Linked DNA regions of Homo sapiens: regions 1, 2 and 4 are each reported to be linked to region 3. The links are microRNA targets in miRTarBase. Many come from high-throughput screens and were not tested one by one. Region 3 holds a microRNA gene; each other region holds the end of a gene's coding sequence.
Evidence for each region. Region 3 holds the annotated microRNA hsa-miR-4464 (AAGGUUUGGAUAGAUGCAAUA, at 2,211-2,231, shown strand). A microRNA usually pairs through its seed, bases 2 to 8, with sites in the 3' UTR of a target mRNA and lowers its output. Matches are read on the target gene's strand: a 7mer-m8 pairs with bases 2 to 8, a 7mer-A1 pairs with bases 2 to 7 and ends in A, and an 8mer does both.

Region 1: the mRNA of YWHAE is a reported target of hsa-miR-4464. Seed matches in the 3' UTR shown: 8mer at 1,767-1,774.
Region 2: the mRNA of VWC2L is a reported target of hsa-miR-4464. The part of its 3' UTR that is shown has no 7-base or 8-base seed match.
Region 4: the mRNA of KANSL1L is a reported target of hsa-miR-4464. Seed matches in the 3' UTR shown: 7mer-m8 at 832-838.

Annotation. Positions count from the first base shown.
Region 1 is chr17:1,342,789-1,345,788 of GRCh38, forward strand. YWHAE (tyrosine 3-monooxygenase/tryptophan 5-monooxygenase activation protein epsilon) reads right to left here. Exons shown (of 6, transcript NM_006761.5): 6 at 1,487-2,711. The coding sequence ends at 2,659. Among named protein-coding and RNA genes, the nearest start is that of YWHAE, 56 kb to the right of the region's middle.
Region 2 is chr2:214,575,595-214,578,594 of GRCh38, reverse strand. VWC2L (von Willebrand factor C domain containing 2 like) reads right to left here. Exons shown (of 4, transcript NM_001080500.4): 4 at 1-2,923. The coding sequence ends at 2,775. Among named protein-coding and RNA genes, the nearest start is that of VWC2L-IT1, 67 kb to the right of the region's middle.
Region 3 is chr6:90,310,543-90,313,694 of GRCh38, forward strand. It overlaps MIR4464 (microRNA 4464), which reads left to right and starts at 2,200; the gene lies at 2,200-2,291. The region is part of intron 1 of LOC105377891 (a long non-coding RNA gene); the gene reads left to right.
Region 4 is chr2:210,020,434-210,023,433 of GRCh38, reverse strand. It overlaps KANSL1L (KAT8 regulatory NSL complex subunit 1 like), which reads left to right. Exons shown (of 15, transcript NM_152519.4): 15 at 255-2,013. The coding sequence ends at 485. It overlaps RPE (ribulose-5-phosphate-3-epimerase), which reads right to left. Exons shown (of 6, transcript NM_199229.3): 6 at 1,174-3,000. Among named protein-coding and RNA genes, the nearest start is that of KANSL1L-AS1, 8.0 kb to the left of the region's middle.

The DNA.
Region 1 (3,000 bases), not on the chromosome of region 3:
GCACCTTTCTGCAGCTTCCCTGGCTCCCTTTCAATTTTTTTTTTTTTTTTTTTTTTTTGAGACGGAGTTCTGCTCTTATTGCCCAGATTAGAGTGCAGTGGCGCGATCTTGGCTCACTGCAAGCTCCGCCTTCCAGTTTCCAGCGATTGTCCTGCCTCAGGCCTCCCAAGTCACTGGATGTTAATTACACCCAGCAAGGTCGCCCGCCACCACGCCTGGCTAATTTTTTTGTATTTTTAGTAGAGACAGGGTTTCCCCATGTTGTCCAGGCTGGTCTCTTAACTGCTGACCTCGTGATCCACCCACCACGGCCTCCGAAAGTGCTGGGATTACAGGCGTGAGCCACCGCACCCGGCCTTTCAATTTTTGATAAGGATCTTTCCTTTTTTTTTTTTTTGAGACAGTCTCACTCTGTCGCCCAGGCTGGAGTGCAGTAGCGTGATCTCGGCTCACTGCAACCTCTGCCTCCCGGGTTCAAGCGATTCTCCTGCCTCAGCCTCCCGAGTAGCTGGGAGTACAGGCGTGCGCCACCATGCCTGGCTAATTTTTTGTACTTTTAGTAGAGACGGAGTTTCACCGTGTTAGCCAGGATGGTCTCAATCTCCTGACCTCGTGATCCGCCCGCCTCGGCCTCTCAAATTGCAGGGATTACAGGTGTGAGCCACCGCACCCAGCCGAGTGGTTTCTTTAAACTCTGCAACAGACTTGACGAATTCCTTGGATTTTGACCTTTAAGTGTAGCAGGTGTGCTGGAAACAGAGCAAATCAACTTGAAAGCTTCTTGGAGGTTGCTCCAAACAGCAGCATATAATTATATTCAATGGTCTCCCTATCTCTCGGAAAAGCAACTCACAAAAACATGTTTATTCTCATTGCCAGCACTCACTAAACGCTACTAGGATATCGCTGATCTGTTCATTTCCTAAATCTCTGCTACTAACACTTTAAACCGAGAGTAAACTTGCAGTCTCAACATCCAATTTTAGAAGACAAGTGTGACGAGGAAGGATTTATCAACTGAAAAATGTTTACTGACACAGGGAATCTAGAAATGTACCTTCCAGATACATACAAATATTTAAGCAAAAACTGTTCCAAGGGTATTTCCTGCAGCACCTGCCCAAAAGGAGCAAACTGGTCTTAACAAAATCAGGTGTACATCAATGTTACGCAGTCAGAATGAGACACATCTGAATGCCTAACATAAAAAGATCTACAGTAACTAGGTATCTATACACATTGATGTATAAACTGTTTATGGAAAGAAGCTTCTTATACAGTGTTTCTGGAAAGGGAGACTGCTATCCTGCTGTCTATAATGTGTGTATGGATTACTAAGAAAGGATTGAGTAATTCTCCACTACTGCCACTAGCCTCTGGAGGAAGAGGGCACACAGTTTTTACCTCTAAGAATTATTATAAGACATTCAGCCTTATTTGGTTGTATGAAATACTATGCTAGAAAATGATCCATAATTACACCTTGTACTACTCATGTTGTACTTTAATGATTAAAATAAATACCATGTTGCTGCCTGGTCTGGAGGACAAGACACACCATCAACTGACTCAGTGTTCTTCACAACCAGACTACAGGCAATTTTTTTCCAAAACATACATCTTTGGGAAGCAAACAAATTATTTATGGAAGAAAAAAGGAGGAATGTTTCACATTCAGGCAAACATAATACTGTCAGTGTGTTTGGACTAGAGATTTTATTTTAGAAGTATAAAGGATGGAGGCGCGATATTTGGCATTTTTAATTTAGGTTTGTTTTATTTAAGTTTAATGTTAATTCCATGCTGTGTTTCAGTAAGAACAATACAGATTCTGTATCTGTGGCTCCAGTCAGATATCCAGTAGTACAAATTAGCTTCAAGTTACACATACTGAACAAAAGAGGTTGAGCGAGCGAAGGAGGGGAGGAGTGAGGGGAAGGAGGTAGGGGGAGGGGGAAGGAGAAGAAACAAAAGAATTGAACAGGCATGCAGGCTTTTCCATACCACCTTCAACGCTAACCTGCTTCAGTGGGAGAGTAAAGTAGGCAAGAATGAGCAGCCACGGATTGTTGAACTGTTACCAGCACCATGCTTTTCAGCAACATTTCAGCGGAGTTGGAAACATTTTTTACAGCAAAACCATTACAACGAAGTCCCTCCCCAAACCACCTTTAACCATCTCAAGCTAACACCCAATTACTTGCAAACACTGGTATAAAACACAGTTTAAACAATTAGAAAAATGAAAACTGATACCACTTATGCCTCTATAGTGTGATTAACCTCTCTCTTAGATGCTTGCATCACCTATAAGTCTAATGGCTTTCAAATGTAATTTCCATTTGCTAATGGTGATCTTGCCACATCTGGCACGGAGACGACACAGTAATGCTGAAAAAGCCTCTATGTAGTCCTGTTAGTGTCTTAAAGAACCTAAAAGCTGGGACCAGTAAAATCCACAGAAATTCACTCTTGCCTTTAAGAACTTTTGAAAACTGTTTAAAAAAAAAAAAAAAAAACCAACAGGGCAGGAACCTAAATTCTGAGACCAAATGTAAAAGTCAGATTTGGTGGTTCTCAGTGACAATGGGGAGTTTCCAAAGGGTGGGATGGGGAGGAGGGGGTGGTCAGAGATGGTTTCTCTTGTTGGCTTATGTCTCACTGATTTTCGTCTTCCACGTCCTGCAGCGCTTCTTTATTCTGCTCTTCACCTGTTAAAAAAGAAAAAAAGTCAATTATTTCGTATTGACTACATTAGGCTATGGCAGCCACAAACAAAGGTGTCATTCCAAGCATAAAGACTCTTCTACTTGCTACAATTGGTATTAAACGCAGGCAAAGGACTTCTATCATCCTTGACACCTGAGATGCCTAAGCCAAGAAGGGATTATGGTCCTGAAAGTATTTATTGGTCAACAGAATGAAAAAAACTGATGCGCAGTACAACTCAATGTTTTTACGCTAAATAAGCTCTTGACGTAGACAGCCAAGGAAACCATC
Region 2 (3,000 bases), not on the chromosome of region 3:
AGGAAGTTGTAAAATGTTTATCAGTTTATGAGAAATTGTCACAGTATAGGTTCATCTCTCCCTAAAGGGGGAAAAATGTCAGTGCTACAAAATCTTAAAGGAAACAGCCTGCAGTGAAACTTTGAGAAAAAGAAAATCCAACAACAACAAAACCAACCATAAAAATCCCTCTCTCTAGCTGGTTATCAGAGGCCACAGAACAGCCTGCTTTCTGCAAACTCTCTGAAGAGAGATCCTTAATGGATGTCCCATTCAATTCTAGTAAATTCTTGCTGTGACTCTCGCTGTGCCAATGCTTTGATGCAAAATTTCTGCACTTCAGCTTCCCAGTTGTACTCTCTTTCTGTTTTCTAAAAAAGGACATAGTAACTCCTTAATAATAGATAAGGTACTATGCTGCATGGCTCTATTAATGATATTTTCTGAGTTTCAAACCTTATTCCTGTCATTTATTATTATTATTTCTTTCCAAGAGTGTGGATTTTTGAAGTTGGCAACAGGCAACCTCGGGGCAAAGAAAGCTCTATAATACATCTCTGTCTAGACATAAGCTAAAGTGTGGAATTCCTTTACTTTTGAGTGCAGACATAAATCATGCAGCATTGCTCATGAATGATTCATGACTGTCTATATGATGTATCCATGGTGGCAAATGAAAGGCACCAACCTTGCTGCAAATTGGTGTTCTAAGGGAAGGTGGCTTGATGCTCTTCCTCGGGATGGTGCCGGCATGGCTATTTGTATCATAACGCAAGCACAGTGTGCATAAGAATGTCAGGTCTGACTCGTCAGCACGTTAATTTTGGAAATGACAACTCTTTCTTGATGACAGCAGATGCTTCCAGGGAGGAGAGGCTGACAATTTTAAATGAAAAACCAGTTGACAAGACTCAAAAAAATATGTTTCCTGAGGGTGGGCCTATAGCATTAGAAGCCTCACTCTCTATGGAGAAGACTGACCCCTTGGAAATGCTGACTGTGTATGTCCCATAGGGATCAGAAGCTCACAAAAGCCACAGGTGCTGCTAGAGCTTGCCTACTGTGTCCCCTGCCAGAAACCACTCTATACTGATTATTCTAGACCACTGGTTCTCAACGAGGTGAAATTAGGCCCCTCACTCCCACTCCTTAGGGACATTAGGCAATGTCTGGAGAAATTTGGTTGTCACCAGTTGCTGGGATGTTGCTAGTGGATAGAGGCCAGTGATGGTGCTAAACATCCTAAAAGCACACAGGACAGCCCCCACCAACGAATAATGATCTGGCCCCAAATGTCAATCCTACTAAGATTGAGACACCTTGCTCTAGAATATGGCTCTCCACAGGAGCTATGGCAAAGCCCAGGTTGGGGGAGCAGAAAAAGAAAGAACATTGATAATAAAGACAACTGTAAAGTCTCTTCAAGGACCCTATCAGATCTGTGCCAGGGTTTTTAGGGCAGGAGCATGGAATAAGCGACTAACTATGCCATGTGGTTTCAGAATTGTTAATTTTGCACTTGAATCGAGGTGGCATCAGATACCCTGTGTGTTTTGTTTTTTCTGTTACTATACTAGCAGCATTACCAGGGCAACCTAGAGACTCTTCAAAGGTTCACTTTAATTTTTCAGTATCTAATATATACATTTTAAAAAATGTTCAACAAATGGAATTGTATTGTGCAAGACTCACTCTACCCTAATCTTTAATTTAAATCAGCACTTGAGGTGGAAAGGGTGTCCTGAATCTGTGTTTCAGACATAGGGCTGAGTGGTTGTTACTACAACATGGCAAACACAGTCCCGAACCACAAAAACTGCCAGTGTGTACTACTGACTTTTAGCCAAATCTGAACTCAAAAGCCAGAGATGTTCATAAGGATTTGGATTCACAGTGGGTTTTCTCACCCTGGTTCTGGTATTTATATTGCCTGATGACAGTGAGTTTAGAGTGTGTTTAGCTACAAACCAAACTCAAATTTCACATCATGAAAAAGTCTGATGATTAATGCTACAATTTTAAAGATCTGTCTCTCTTTGGATTCTTTAGTTGAGCTTATGGTGTTCTTTACGTAATAGATTTTGATTGGCAGTTTCGAGGTTTTCCATATGAAATGTGTGGTTTGTAAGAATTAAATTGTGAGCCCCCACGTAATGGACAAAGTACTTGTTCCCAACCCTGTCCAGCAATAGGCCCGTCTATGTGCCCACCCCTCTTTCCTTAGTCTACAGGGCATGATTCACCCTAGGGGAGCAATTGACTGGATGCTCTTGTGTTTCCCAGCTCGGGAAAGATATTTCCCCTGACATTCCTTTACCAAACTTTTTTTTTTACACAACTCAAAACTTTACTGTGCAGTCAAATTTAGCCCCTTAGACTCTAAAAGTGAAAAAACAAATATTACAGGAGAACAATGCCATGTACAATGTACAGAAGAGTAAAAATGAAGTAAACCAGGGGACAGTGAGCTGGTAGGTCAGAGGCATTACCAGGGAAGGAGCCTGTGCAAGGCTATTTCTTTCTTTTTGTTCCAGCAATCCAGTCGTCAAGTCACCATCAAGCATTGGTAAATACAAAAGCGATTTAGATAGCTATATACTATATATATTTTATATAGCAAGAGAGAAAGAAATTTCCTCTTAGGAAAATATTCACTTTTGTCAACCCTAGAAAGTTTTGCTGGTGACCCTGTTGTAGCTGGCAGGAGTTTGTTTGTTTTGTTTTGTGTTAAACATGTGCAGTGTTGAAGCCATAGCATCCTTTCCTAAGAACTCATCATTGGGTGGAAGTTTGTCCTACACAGTCTGCTTGCCTTGGCATTCACGTTTCGAACACTGAGCAGGCTTCCACCAGTCCCCGTTGTGACAATGACAGATGTTACATTCGTCCACTTTCACTTCAATGCCAGCTGGAATTATCGTCGTTCCTGCAAAGCAGTTTGGACCTGAAACACACAGATACATTGATTAGTTGATTAAATCTGAGAGGCTCCCTTTCTCCCCACCATCCAAACCCAAGCCC
Region 3 (3,152 bases):
ATCTCTGCTCCATTCCTTGAACTTCTGACCAGCTTTCTCTGTTTACTTGGGAAGTCATGATGTGAATCTCAGCCCCATCCACTGAGCATCTGGGTAAGTCTCCTGGAGTAATTTGTCCATGCATCCATTGGATTACTAGTCTCCACTTGCCAAGTGGCAGAACGTCAGCTCTGCCTGGACTCAGTGGGGGATTGGGGAGATGGCTCTGTTAGCTTCTGTGGCTCTGCCATGGCTGTTCTGGCTGCCACTCCAGCCCTCGTTCATGTTGCTTGATAGCACGGCCCATGCTGCTCCACAGAGGTGCTGGCCAACCCTGACCTCTAATACACCCCAGGACCTCTGTTCGCTCACTTGCGGGCATCTCCCTCCTAAGGAAATGGCTGCTTCTGCTAGCCTCCTCTGGTCTAGGTGATGTGGGGGACGATGATTCCCATGGGAAGCATGGGAAGCACAATAGAGGCACACTCTATTGTGTCTATCCAAACCTTACTAATTTGGAGTTTTGTGGGGTGGTGTGCTGTGTGTATGTGTGTGTGAGTTCTTTTGGTTGGATGACACCACTCCTCCCTGGGAGTGGAGATTGTGAAGGAAAGTCTGGATTTCAGATGGCGCTTCAGACTGTATTCAAAGCCACTCTTCTCATCCCACACCCAAGCCCTTCTTCTAGTCCACCCTACTGGATTTCTTCATTGTTTTGGGGGTTTTCCTTCCAGGGGTTAGTTGCTCCCTGCAATTTAGCCCGTGTCACTTTCCTTCTCTCCTTCTCTGGCCTGTCAAACAGACATGCTGGTGTGTGCAAACCCAGGAAAACTGAGGAATGTGGCTGGATTCTTATTGCATGGCCCTTGCATGTTCTGTGAATGTACAGAGGATCTCTAGGGCTTCTTCCACCTCACAGACAAGCCAATTCGAGCATTGGCTTGGGGTCCAGCCAAGATATCCCTTTATGTTCATAATTTCTGTTTTCTAAAACTTTTAAAAACAAATGTGTCCCTTTTTAAAGATATGACTCTTCATGACCATTCTATATCTGTCCTTTTAGCTTCAACTCCTATTTTCTTATTTATTAGATCTTAGTTCAAATGCATGTGAGGAAAAATCTGATTGGCTCCACTTATGATTTAACACAGGCCGGGCATGGATTGGCTGCCTTGGCCCAACCCTGGTCCAATCAATTTACCAGCTTGAGGTGGGTGGCGAGAGGGGAGGGGTGTCCCAAGGAACAAATCATGGTCACCCAGGCCTTCACGTTCAGCATCTGCTGTGCATAGGATACTCTTTCTTTAGAGTCACTATTGATGGGTAAACACAATGACTGATACCTCAAATACATTCATACTTCAAGAATGAACTGTTTTCTGAAATATCAACATGGGGGCCTTCCCCCCATTAAAATTTCCAACCGTAGTGTGCTTTCTTATTTCATTTTAGGTATGAAAAATGATATAGAGTAGGAGTGTTTGGGAGTCTTCTATGTTTTTGTTGCTTAGATGATTCCCATGTAGATTTCTACACTATTCGATTTCACACAGATATGGAGTGATTCACAGCTTAGAAGAATATTGCTGTGTCCTTTTCTGCTGCCTTTCATAATAAGACTTCAATTGCTTTTAAAACACTAACTAAATCTCATTAACATTATCTCCCACATGTTAATAGGAAAAACAGGTCTGTAGAACAGTGACATTTCATGATTAAAAATACATTTATTTAATGGTTGAGTTGCCTCGATTTGAATATTGCCCACTGCTTCCATAATAACAGCAGAAGTTTTTCACAGATGCTTTTTAATGGGTAACCCCTGCTATATCTCCACTAGCAGTATAAAACCTTGAGTAATGTGCATTGATTTGATATGTGCTAATTGCTTATCAGAAATTACTCAGTTGTAGCCTATCACTGCTGAAATTACTTCCAAGGAGAAAACTGGGCACTTTTGAAAGGTGCATTAATGCCACTAGGTCACTAGTGTCACATTTAGTATTCTAAAACAGTAACTGTAATGGCCTGACAGAGCCCAGTGCTCATCCAAAGACATTCGATGTTCACTCAAAGAAGAAGGCACAAAGAGAATCTGGCCCCAAATGTGGAATCGAATGCAAATAAAAATTGCTTCAATCTATTATTTTATAAGTTTATTAAAAATCAGGAACAGCAAATAAAAATTGCTTCAATCTATTATAAGTTTATTAAAAATCAGGAACCTTAGTAAGGTTTGGATAGATGCAATAAAGTATGTCCACAGCTGAAAGGACATACTTTATTGCATGTATCCAAACCTTACTAATTCAGAGTTTTGTGCTGCGTGTATGTGTGTGTAGTAGGAGTATGTGTGTGTGTGTTTCAATGCTCCTGCTTCTGATCTCCAATAAATAAGGTTATGTTTTGTATCCAACTCTGTGGTATACTGGTGCCATATTTTGTCTTGAACAATTCTCAAAATGTTTAGATAATTAGTTCTGTTTAGGATTGAAGTAATCCACTGGGAACCCAGGGTGGGCGCAGTTTGGTGATTGAGGGGGCAGAGGTAGTGGAGTAGTCATGCATGCTTCTCAAAGCCCTAGTGTGGTAGGGATGCATGGAATGGCCAGAGAGAAACCAGGACTGCTGCCTACATGGATGCCTGCCTGTGAGGTGGGAGGTAAGGAAACCTCAGTGGCCCCTACCCTGGCTTGAGTGGAGGCCCAGGGCTGGGGTGGATAGCAGTGGACAAGGAGCACCACAAAGGCAAGGAGCAGGTTTAGGGGAAATGAAACATTGACTCCTTGTGATGAGGACAGTGGGCTGGAATGTTTCACATTTCCCTCCAAGCCACCATTCTTATAGTCACTATTTGCCTAGTGTGACTGCCAAATCTGGGGTCCCTGACACTCTCTCAGCTTCATTTTCCTCTTTGCTGGTCTCATACTCAAGCTGGTACTCGCCATGTGAAGGGCAAGGTGGTCACCAGCAGCTCCAGGCTCCTTACTGCAGGTCCTTATGCTCCACATCTCTGGGGAGGGGCAACAACACTTCCTCTCCCAGGGTCCATATGCACACCTCTGGCGGGCCTTTGTGTGGCCCTGCTGGGTCACATGCTTATGCCATGGAACTGCCATTAAGGAAAGAGAGACAGAAACTATGACTGGCACATTTCCATCTTAAGGGACAGA
Region 4 (3,000 bases), not on the chromosome of region 3:
ATGAAGACCACTGCCTATGGCAGCATTTCCTCTTCTTGGCAGAGGCAAAGTAAAGAAATAAATCCCAAAAGTCACTCAACAATTCTCAATATATTCCATTTTGAGTTGCTATTTAAGTTGAAATGAAAAATTGTACATTTATGTGCTAAAGAACAGAACAATTATTACAATATAGACATGTACAGATTACTTGTTAGATGAATTTAAACAAAACAAGTTAGTTGAAACTTAACTGAAAATTTTTCCCCTTTCAGTCTTTGTGGTGGGAACGACGGGCTTTTCCACTGAAGGGTGAAGACATGGCAGCCTTATTATGTCAAGATGAAAAAAAGGATCAGGTTGAAAGGTCAAGCACAGCTTTCCATGGTGAAATCTTCGGTACCAGTGTACCAGAGAATGGCCACCATCCAAAAAAGCAGTCAGATGGAATGGAAGAATACAAAACCTTTGGTCTAGGACTTACTAATGTTAAAAAAAATAGGTGACAGGGAACAGGTTAAGAAAACTATGTAAATGTAGGAAAGATGGGAGGAAATAAAGCCCTGTTCTGGATCCCCCATCCCCTCCAGAATAAGAGCATGTTCTGCATGTATTAATCTTTTATGCTGTTTATGAAACAGGCAAGATAAGTCTGTTTTTCCTTCTGGAACCATAAGGGTAACCAGATTTTCATCTACAGACAAGTGGTAGTCATTTGTGTTTATCATGCAACTTACTTACAAACACCAAGATATTAATTGCTGCAACTTGATGTCAAATCACATTACTGGGTAATTTTTAAGACTATGTACCCACACCATACATACATACATATATATATACACATACATACAAACCTGTGTGCCAAGTGACAGCTATTTTTTTATATACATGGTAATTCATTAAAATTGCCTTAGTAATATATTAGAATATACAAATATGTGTGTATAAAATAAACATACACACACACACACACCCCTATGTAGTTTTTAAAACACTGGCAATGACCCACTCCCCTTGGAAATGCATGTATGAACTACCCTATGAAATGTAAGCTGCAGAATAGATAAAACACAGGTTTCCACTAATAAAAGACATCTGAACGTCCTGAATATAGAGACAGAAGTTTTTTGTTGTTGTTGTTGTTGTTTTAACATGTTTAACCAACAGAAGTTATTTACAGAAATTCATATATCCAGGCAACACAAAACTCCTTTATTCAAAATCACTGCTATCTTTGGGACTAAACACAGGCTACTTTCTGTTTACTCCTAACAAAATAAAGCAAGCAAATTTGAGTCAAATATTGGTGCACTTTAATACTATCACATCTTTGAAAACTCAATTTGAGTTTTACCAATTAATGTGTCTCATGAAGAGAAGACACCAGTTTTAAAATGAGCCACAAACAGTAAAGCCCTATCAGTATAAAATTTGAAAAAAAAAAAAAAGATGATTGTATTTCTAGATTAGCAAGAAATTAGTTAATTCTGGCTGATTTCTATTTCTAGCTAATTTGGTCATTCTTTGCCATAGCTTACTCTATTCAAATAAACATATATTCTTGCTTGCATCCTAGATTGGAAATTAAAATTTTTCAAAGAACAAAGCTTCAATATTGGATACTGAAGAGTATACATGAAAGAAAATTCCTTTTGAAGCTATTAAACCATTTTTTTCCTATGTGAAAGTTGAGGACAATTTATATAACTCACTTTTTGTCATGTAAAAAAGGTTACTCAAGTTGTACTACCCACATAACTGAAAATATTGGCCATTTGGCCTTATCTGTGAGATTTGACACTAAGTTTTTGTTAGAGATTGGAAATTATACTAGTCCTTTTAAGGGGTAAAAAATTCAATTCAATACTGACAAACTTTTGCTTGTAGTTTTACTGTACATTTATTTTTAAAGAAAAAGAAAACAAAAGCCAGACAAACCCAAGTTGTCCAGGCAAATAAACTCAAATCTTTGTCACGTCTGATATTATAATCTTCTATGTAAGTTTTTTAATTAAAGTTATTTCTATATGCCGTGTGTTGCTTGTTATTAAATGCGACGTATTCATGGCACAAAGCTTTCCCAAGCTGAATAAAAACAAACATTAACAAATTTTTACCTTGTAATGCAGGAAGAAACCCAAGCAAGCTCTAGTCTGTGCTTAAGTGTTAGCATTCTTATTTTTTGAACCTTATTTCTCAAAACTTATAGTAGCCTCAAGAAGTCTATTGATATTGGTCATGTTTATTTCTTGCCATATTTATAACACAGCAAGAGTATTTACAGGAATGAAGTAGCTGACACATATTTTTAGACTCTGTATAATTCAGAACAGTTATAAATATTTAGTTTATGGATTGACTCTGTATCCTGTCATCTTTTCGCCTACCTGATCTTTCTTGGAATAAAATAATATATCCTTGGGGTCAAGATCCATAGTTCCAGAATTTTCTCAGCCATCTGGTTCTGCTACAGCGTAAAATTAGACTGGAAATAAGACAACGTTAAGTAAAAAGCTTCTTTTACCTAACCCACCTCCCAAGGGCTCCATTTGTAAAAGTACAGACCAGAAATTCTACCACTTCCCAGATCCTTTCCAGGGTACCACCCTATTAAGCATTAATTTCTTCATTTTTTAAATGGGGACAAAAATATCTGCTTTATTATTACCACTTACTTATAGAGGTGATTTACAGATTTAATGAGAATATATCAAAGTACTTTATAACTCACAAAAATATAAACTTATATAATGCTGTTTACTTTGTGTTGAGCATATTCTAAATTCTGGGACTAGTACTGGAAACTTTACATATATAGTGTTAGCTCTTAATTCTCAACAGAACCCCACAGTTGCTATAATTACATTTAATGTATAAATGACTTTAGAGAAACACAAAAAAGATTGGGTGATTTGTTAAAGGTCCAGCTAGAAAGGGGCAGTCAGAATTCAACCCAATATTACCTCCAAACAGAGGTTTTACTTTTTCCTTTCTACTCAGAGCTAACACAACAGCATT